3 separate regions of the Homo sapiens genome follow, and all the other regions are linked to region 1. The links come from fine-mapping of genetic effects on gene expression. A gene starts in region 1. Each other region holds a variant in brackets. All regions are shown on one strand. Distances are between the middles of the regions.

Region 1 (2,760 bases):
TCTAAGTCTCAGTGAGAAATCTGAGCTGCAGGGATTTGGTCGTCAGCATACAGCAAGTTCTTCATGCCACAGGAGAAGGTGCAACCAGCAAGGCACAATGTGTGCGATCAGAAGACGCCCAGGGTCACCAAAGGGGCAGATGAGGAGACCCCTACAAAGGAGGAGGCAAAACCCGAAGTGGTGGAGAAAGAGTTTTAGAAGAAAGCCAAGTACTGCCAAGGAGTAATTGCACTGATAGTGCCAAGTACTGCCAAGAGATCACCTAAGAAGAAGAAAACAGTCCTCTCAGCAGATAATCTCTCAACCTCCTGCAGGCTTCTATTTTATTGTGTTCTTCCAACTTCTCTGGACACTGCTTTGTAGTCCTTTAGAACAGTGCAGACACCACTCCCTCCAGGAAGCTTTGTTTATATCTATTTGCCTGTTCTCATATCTGTCCCCGCAATCAGTCTATGAGCCTCACTAGGGCAGGGGCTGCACATGTAACTTATTTACCTAGCACAGTGCTGGTTCACTTGATGACTGGAGGATTTGCAAATACAAATTTAACAAAAAAATTTTTTGTGAGACAGACATTAGTTTTTACTTTTCGGTAGTCCCAGGTCCCTGTAATGGTAGCAAGCTTTCCTTGACACCAGTTCAAGTTGTGTATAGTAAGCCTGGCCTAGGTGAGTGTTTAGTCATATTCCTCAACAATTTCACTAATGACCTGCACCTGACTTGAAAGGCTCGGTTCTCTAAACCAGCTTCATCTTCCCGTTATCAAGCCTCAGTTCCCAACATTTGCAATGCCTCTTCACTGTTAGTATATTCACTTTGTAAGATGCAGCTTAAGTCTATCTCTTCCAGAAGCCTTTCTTTCCTCCCCCTGGTTCTGATTATGAGTGAGTTAAGTCACAACCTTCCCACCTTACCCCGGGTGCAAAAAGCGGATAACCATTCCTGCTCTGAGTGTTGAGGAGCTCACAGGTGGTAAGGGATGGAAAAGCACACTGTAAAGCGCTGTACACAGGCAATTTATCTTTTCAGAATGGCAGCTCCTCCGGGGCAGGCCCCTAGGGAAGGCAGACCCTCCCCACTCTCGCAGAGGTCAATCCAGCTTCTCCGCAGCGCCCAGGGGGCCTCCCGCTCCCTTCTAGATGCGCCGGAGCGGGCCGGAATATCACTGGCTCGCCCGCAGCCCAGCACGCGTCAGGCCGGTTAAATCTCTGCTTCGGCCTCGGAGGAGGAGGTTGTGCCGGCCCTGCTCGACTAACCGGAGAGGGCGAACCAAAAGCCATGCATGACGATACGCACCGCGGGGACTGGAGCCTCTGGCCTCACGACGGAGATTCCCTGAGAGCTGCCCGTGGTTGCCGGTACCGGCTGCTGCCGCCGGACTCCCGTAGGCGCTGCGCGGCTCCCTTTTCTTCGGGAGGCAGAGCCTATCGGTGCTTCCGTGTGCGTCATCAGGAGGCGACCGTCGGGGATGCTCACAGTTGGACAGTTTGGTCCCGAGGCATGCTGGGATACCGCGGGCCGGTCTCCATAGTAACTGGCCGACATTCGCGCAGGCCTTCGGCCTGCAGGGAAGGCCCTGATGGTTCAGTGCTTTGCAGACGGTGCCCTTCGTCCGCGGCCATCTCCCCACGGCGTGCAAGGGGAGAAGCCGGCCCCGATCCCCCCACCCCCAGCTCAGGAGAGTAACGGAGCCAGCTGTGGGTGTGAACACGCATTTATTTACACATTGTCATCGGTAGGCACATACCCAGCCCAGCCCGTTGAAGGGACAGATCTCAGGCTGTCACCCATGGAACCTGCAGACCCTTCCCTCCTCCAGAACCCTTGAAGGCGAAGCCCTGAGAGAACCAGGAATTTTAGGCTTCTGTTCAAGAGCTAAGAACTAAATTTTATGCCTTCATCTGATTTCTTTCCAAAAAGTCCATTTCATTAAGTATTCAGACTTCTTAGCTCCATCCCATTCATACTTTTTGCTCTCCTACTACCCACCCAAGATTGTTAATAATAACAATAATAATAACAACAATAATACTGCGATAATATTAATACTTCACATTTGTACGAAGCTTACAGAATGTTTTCACATATAGCATCTCATCTGAGCCTCCCAACAGTTCCGTGAGGTAGGTATTCTCACCTCCCTTTTTACAGACAGGGTAACCGAGGCTCAGAGAGGTAACGGGATTTACTCAAGGCCACACAGCTAGTTAGTGGTAAAGCTAGGAATCGATCCCAGCACCCCATATCCAAGTCCAGTGTTTCAACACCACAGCTACCTCTGTAAAGTGGAGCGACATTTCTTACCCCAGTCAGGCCTAAATGGTGGCCTGAGGAGCCAAGAGGCTGACTTCTCAGATTAGGGGAGGGAAGGGCTCAGCAGCGTCGGGGAGAGTTGGGGTACTTGGCCTTCAACTCCTGTTTGAACTGGCGATATAGGATCTTATTGTGCTGATTTTCAGCCTCCTTTTGGGGATGGAACTTCAACGCTTCTTTGAAGCCCTTATGAACCAAGAAACCTTCGTTCAGGACCTCAAAATCAAACCCCGCCACATGCAGCTCGCAGGCCTGCAGGAGGAAAGACAGGTTAGCAAAGTTTGATGACATTGACAGGCCTGAGACTGACTTCCCTAAAGCCACAGTCCAGCGTCCTCACCCCTCTGGAAGTATCCTGGATCTTCCACACCATCCACCCACCTCCTGAACTATGATCCCTCCTGCTTCATTGCCTCCTTTCCATCCAGGGCCACTCCTCATAACTCC
Region 2 (2,760 bases), 21 kb before region 1:
AGAAAAGGAGTAGGGGCCTGTCTTGAAAGGTGTTGAAGTTGTCCCTAAAAGTCCGGGGCTCCCTTCTGGAGGCCATGGGGAAGAGAGGCATGATGAGAGATCTCTGTGGCTTGTGTGTGGTGGGTGGAGGGGGCTTGGAGGCCAGGGACCAGTTAGGAGGCTGTTGCAATAGTCTGGGAAAGGGGAGGGAGCTGGCTGGAGAGCCCGGCGGCAGGGCGGGCCGGGCTGGGGGAGGCAGCCTCCAGAGGCTCCTTAGGGGCAGTCCTGAGCCTGGTCCAAGGGTGTGGTGAGCCCAGTCATGAGTCGGGCAATGGCCAGTACTAGGGCGTCTAAGGGGACGGATGGCTGCAGGCCGTCTGACAAGTGGGTGGATGGGATCAGAGGTCAGGAGTCCAGCCTCTGTGGGGGTGAGGGGTTGGGGGGCAAGCAGGCAAAGCAGGAGAAGAAAGGTCAAAGGCCAAATTCCAGATGTCTTGGCTGGGCCTACTTGCAAGTGGAAGGAGGCCTGAGCCAGCATGAGGGATGGAGAAGGCAGGAAGGGGCACCTCTGGCCTCTGTGAGGCTAAGCGTCTGGTGGATTGGGAATGAGACTTGGAGAGGTATCTGGTTGCTCAGTTCGGGAGGGTGCCCAGCACTCAGCAGCCTCCCCAAGGTTGTGTGAGGTAAGGTTGAGGCTGCCCAAGAACTGTTTTATCTAGTGAGGCTGGAGGATGTAGCGGGCATAGCATCAGGGATCTGGGTTTAAGGGGCTGGAGAGGGGTTGGTTGGGGTCTTGTTCTTCCTGCTAGTCTTTCAGCCTAGCAGAGAGAAGATGCTAATTGATACAATAAATGCTTGGAGGATGGGTGGGTGGATATATGGATGGATGGATGCATGGATGGATGGAGGCATGCATGAGTGGATGGACTGATGGACGGATGGATGAATGCATGCATGGATAATGAATGAGTGGGGTGGCTGGCTGGGTGGATACATGGATGTTGATCTGGGGTGGGTGTGTGGGTGGATGGATGCATGGATGGGTGAATGCATGGGTGTGTGGGTGGGTGGATACATGAGTAGATGGGTAGATGGATGAATGCATGTATGCACAGATGTATGAGTGGGTAGAAGGATGCTTGGGCAGAAGATGGATGGATGGGTGGATGGATGGATGGATAGATGTATGCATGCATAGGGCTGTATGTGGCTGGACAGATGCATGGGTGGGTGGCTGGACAGATGCATGGGTGGGTGGATGAGTGGGCAGAGGCATGCATAGATGATGCATGGGTGCGTGGTGGGTAGATGCATGAGTA[G/A]ATGGGCAAATGGATGGATGCATGGGTGGGTGGGTGGATGGATGCATGCATGCATGTATGAAGGCATGGGTGGGTGGATGCATGGGTGGATAGATGGATGGATGCATGGGTGGGAGAGTGAATAGATGGATGGATGCATGGATGCATGGGTGGGTGGGAGGATGTTTACGTGGAGAATAGGTGGATGGGTGGTTGGGTGGACGGGAGGCTAAATGGAAGGATGTAGAAATGAGTAAGTGGATGGATGGATAGATGGGTAGGTGGGCAGGTGTGTGGATGAGAAGATTTTGAGATGCATGTTTGGATATAGGGCCACAGGCAGAAGTGGGAGGTCCTGAGTCATAACTAGCAGCCACCATGATGAATGACATGCTCAGAACAGAACTCCGCGGCTCTGCAGAAGTGCAGCCCAGGACAGGACAACTTAGACTACCACTGGCAGGGATCAGGTGTGATGCTTCTCGTGGTACCAAACAGCCTGTTTTCTGCTGGGTTCTGAGGCCAACATGTCTCCCTGGCTGAGGGTAGGGACGATGTACCTTCCAAGCTCAGGAGGCCAGGCTCAGCTCACATCAGGGGTCAGGAGGCTGGGGTTCCCTGCTCTGATCATGGCCCATATGAGGGGAGCTCATCTGAAGAACAGCATGAACACAGAGGCCCATGGCCTGAGAAGGAGCCTTGTCTTGCAGCTACTGGGACAGGCAAGAAGCAGATGGTGGTTTTGGATGCCATGTGTGGGCCTGTGGGGGTGAGGGTGAGGGCGGCCTGAAGAAGGGCTGGCCCAGAGAGGGCCCAGTGGAACAGCCAGGGTGGGGTATCGAGTGTGATTAGGGGACGCCCCCCAGGCAGGCGTCCTGGACGGCCTTGGCACGCCAGGCCGCTGAGCCAGCACATTGCTTTGTGTACAAATCACCTCCTTTTCTCCTTTTCTTCTGTTCCCATCCCCCACCTCCCTCCACGCCTAAATTCTTCCCAAACCACCCCAGCCTTCGGACTGTCAGGAGGAAGCTTTGATGTGTGGTGGGTGGGAGGCCACTGGTCTTGGGTGGGCGCTGGGGGGTCCCTGCCACCCAAGTCCAGGCATCTACCCCAGGCAGGAGTTGGGGAGGGAAGGGAGCGACTGCAGCCTCCTGCTCCTCCCCCCCAACCTGTGTGCTTCTGGATGGGAGATCCCTGCCGGAAGGGGAGGCAGTGGTGCTGGGGAGTGGGCCGGGTGGGAGGAATAGGCTTGGGGAAGGGGGACCCAGGAAAAGTGTGGTCCAGACCAGGCCTAGCCCCTGAGGGTAAAGGATCTTGCCGACCGAAGGGGGCTGAGGGTTGGGGGTGTATTTACCATGGTGAGAGGCCATGTTCGTGTTCCTGGATGCTTGCATGTGTGCATGTGTGTGTGCACGTGCATGTGTGTGTGCATGTGTGTGTGCGTGTGCATGTGTGTGCTTGCAAAGGCCTGGGACTGCTGTGA
Region 3 (2,760 bases), 67 kb after region 1:
ATTCCAGACATCTCTGGGCTGGTCTCTGGACCGGGATGGGGGACCCAGAGGTGGAGCCGAACACACAAGCAGCACTTGAGGGCTCCGAGGGTGGCAAGGAGAGAAGTTCCTGCTCTGGTACAGCCCTGGGACCTTGAAAGGTGCTTCAACAGAGCGTCCACTCCCAGCGCCTAGCTCTGGGACCTTGAATGGTGCTTTAACAGAGCGTCTGCTCCCAGCGCCAAGCCCTCAGTGCAGAGGGGGAGACTCAGGCGGCCCTCAGACACAATTCGCCAAGGTCGCACAGCAAGTCAGGGTGCCGCTAAGACTAGGACCTACAGCTCTGCCTCCTGGCCCAGGCTCCTCAGCACCTGGGCCCCAGAGGACAGCCTGTGGGAGGCCCACATGGCCACTGCACCATGAACCAAGGACCTGGTCCGGGTCCACCTCCACCAAGTGCTGGCCGTGTGTCACTGGGGTCACTCCACTCTCTGCATTAGGTCTCAGTCATCCAAGACCATCTTTCAAGGGCCGTCACTCCAATTATGAGTCTGGGATTTTCTGAAATTGAGCATTTTGGCCAGGCTGTGGGGTCCCTCTATGACTGCCTGTAAGACACTGCCAAGGGGACTTTCTTCCTTTCACCAGACTGAAGCTAAGAAGTGCTGGAGACAGCAGTTGCTTTAGCCACAGGCTGTGTAGACCACCTGAGGATGACCTGGGGGTCTGTTTTGTGCACCTTGGAACCCATCGGATCCCTCCAATGGTGAGTCCCCTGGTGTACCCAGCACCAAGCTGTGAGAACGACCCCCAACGGGTTGGGTGGAAGAAGCAAAACTACAGGCTCAGTCCCAGTACTTACTCCCCTGTGTCCACACAGGCCAGGTCTCCAGGGTCCCTGCCCATCCAGGGCTGAGAACGTGGTCCTCTGGGAGCCTTCAGGCCCACTCGGACCCCAGCATTGGGCAATGGGCTCATCCCTACCTGAAACTGGGGCTTGGGGTTGCAGCATTCAACTTCCAAAGCCCAAGAGGCACTGGGACAGGTGGCCCAGCAGGCTCAGAGATGCTCAAGTGCCAGAGGTTGGGAGGGCCCTTTGAGGCTAAGGGGTCTGACCCACTGCCATTTTGCAAATACAAAAACTGAGGCCCAGGGAGGGAGAGAGGTTTGCAGAACACGCCCAGCAGGCTAGTGGTAGAGCTGGGAACAGAATCTGCATCTTCTGCTGCTCCTATTCAGAACTATTCCCCTGCACCAAACATAATCCGCTGACATCTAGACTGAGCTCAGCTCGTCTTCTTCCTGGACCTTGGACTCCTTGGCAGAAGGCTCTCCCAACTCACAGCCTGTCAGGGATGGCAATTCAGGGGCTTTCCCTTCAACC[T/C]GATGGTCCTTTCCACCAAAGCTTCCTGGTGCTCCTCCCCTCCCACCAGTGCTCAGCCCTTCTTGGCTTCAGAAGCTGCTCCATCAGCAGCCGTAAGGGTCACTCTCCCCTGCTCACCATGGTTCACCCAACTCCCTGTGGTTCCCGCGTTCCCCAGCATGGGGAGCACCATTCTCCCTGCTCGTGGGGGTCTCCTCTTTGTTGCCCCTCGGCCCAGTCCCTGACCTTCTCTGACCACTGGAGCCTTAAATCCCATCAGTCTTTCCTGGGACCCCCGGACTGTTCCCTGTAGATTTCCTCTCTGTTGGCCCAGGGCCTGTGAGAGTAATGATGGCTGGCATGTCATAGGGCTGCTGTGAGGTTTTCATGAATTAATACACTCATCAGGTACACAAGGTGTGGGTAGGTGCCTCATCTGTAAACTCCTATGTTACGAGCTGTGCCCTGATAGTAACAAGGAGAGACTTGAAGCTGGAGCCTCTGGAGGCTGAGGTATCTGTTGGTGGAAGGGGAAGAAAGGAGGTGCCAGCCTGGAGGAGTTTTTAGTAATGGGAGATAATGGGAGCCACAAGGGTCTTAAGCTGGGAAGAACATGGTCAGGTTGGCTTCCGGAAGAATGGCAAGGGGAGCTGGGCTGCTGAGCACCAGAAGGGTGTGTTGGGCCCGGCCCGGGACCTCCGTCTCTGGCTTTGGTGAGCAGTGGAGGGGGCAGCTGCTGCCCGGGGAAGGAGCCTGCTGGGGCCCGAGCCAGAGCCCTGAGGGGCACTTTATGTGCATCCCTCCACTTCTCCAGGCTGCAGCCTTAGCCTGGTTTACTCCATCTGGTGCTCTCAGACCTGGCCTGGATCAAAGCTGCCGGTGGGTACCCAGGCTATTTCTACACTTGCAGTGCCAGGACATGTGCTGCCTCCTGAACCAGCCCCTGCCGTCTCTGCATAGCCTTGTTCAAAATTATATTTTTCATAAAGTTAAGATAATGACCAACATTCTGCCATGTGAGCATTTCTTGTGCTCCTTTTATGCATCAGGCATTTTCTGAGTGTTTTAACTAATTAACTCCTTTAATGCTAACATCAGTCCCTTGATAGGGGTGCCATCATTCTCCCCACTTCTGTATTTAACAAATCGGTAAACTGAGGCACAAAAGGTTAAGTCACTTAACTGACCGATGTCACAAAGGCAGTCTGTGGAGGAGGCAGGACTCAGCCCAGATTCTCCTCCCCCGCCACCCTCTCCTGCCTCAGGTACATCCCCTCCCACTGGCCTTTCCACGTGGACCGTGTCTCTCCCACTGCCTCTTGATGGTCCTTCAAACATCTGCAAATGCCACACCACCTCCTCAAGCCTCCTCTTCTCTGAGGAACATCTCTCCATTCCTTCCATCTTTTAAAAATTTC

Which allele goes with the higher level. Positions count from the first base shown, and alleles are read on the strand shown. Sizes are in standard deviations (SD) of each study's normalised expression. Not every link is listed here.
In carriers of allele G in region 2, the expression in non-classical monocytes of the gene that starts at base 1,429 in region 1 tends to be lower than with A alone (large effect, 0.94 SD a copy in Schmiedel 2018).

What was found. PIP is the estimated chance that this variant, and not a neighbour inherited with it, causes the effect. A credible set is the group of variants that fine-mapping cannot tell apart.
Region 2: its variant is the best candidate, but not a certain one, in a credible set for the expression of BRMS1 in non-classical monocytes (Schmiedel 2018, PIP 0.60).
Region 3: its variant is the best candidate, but not a certain one, in a credible set for the expression of BRMS1 in whole blood (INTERVAL, PIP 0.58).

What each region holds. Positions count from the first base shown.
Region 1 is chr11:66,343,676-66,346,435 of GRCh38, forward strand. BRMS1 (BRMS1 transcriptional repressor and anoikis regulator) reads right to left here and starts at 1,429. Exons shown (of 10, transcript NM_015399.4): 1 at 1,297-1,429. It overlaps B4GAT1 (beta-1,4-glucuronyltransferase 1), which reads right to left. Exons shown (of 2, transcript NM_006876.3): 2 at 1,699-2,565. The coding sequence ends at 2,374. RefSeq lists enhancers at 1,169-1,719, 1,175-1,604.
Region 2 is chr11:66,322,655-66,325,414 of GRCh38, forward strand. No RefSeq gene overlaps it. Among named protein-coding and RNA genes, the nearest start is that of CD248, 7.0 kb to the left of the region's middle. The variant G/A (reference allele first, on the strand shown) is at 1,299.
Region 3 is chr11:66,410,229-66,412,988 of GRCh38, forward strand. It overlaps a transcript of NPAS4 not described here. Among named protein-coding and RNA genes, the nearest start is that of NPAS4, 9.4 kb to the right of the region's middle. The variant T/C (reference allele first, on the strand shown) is at 1,364.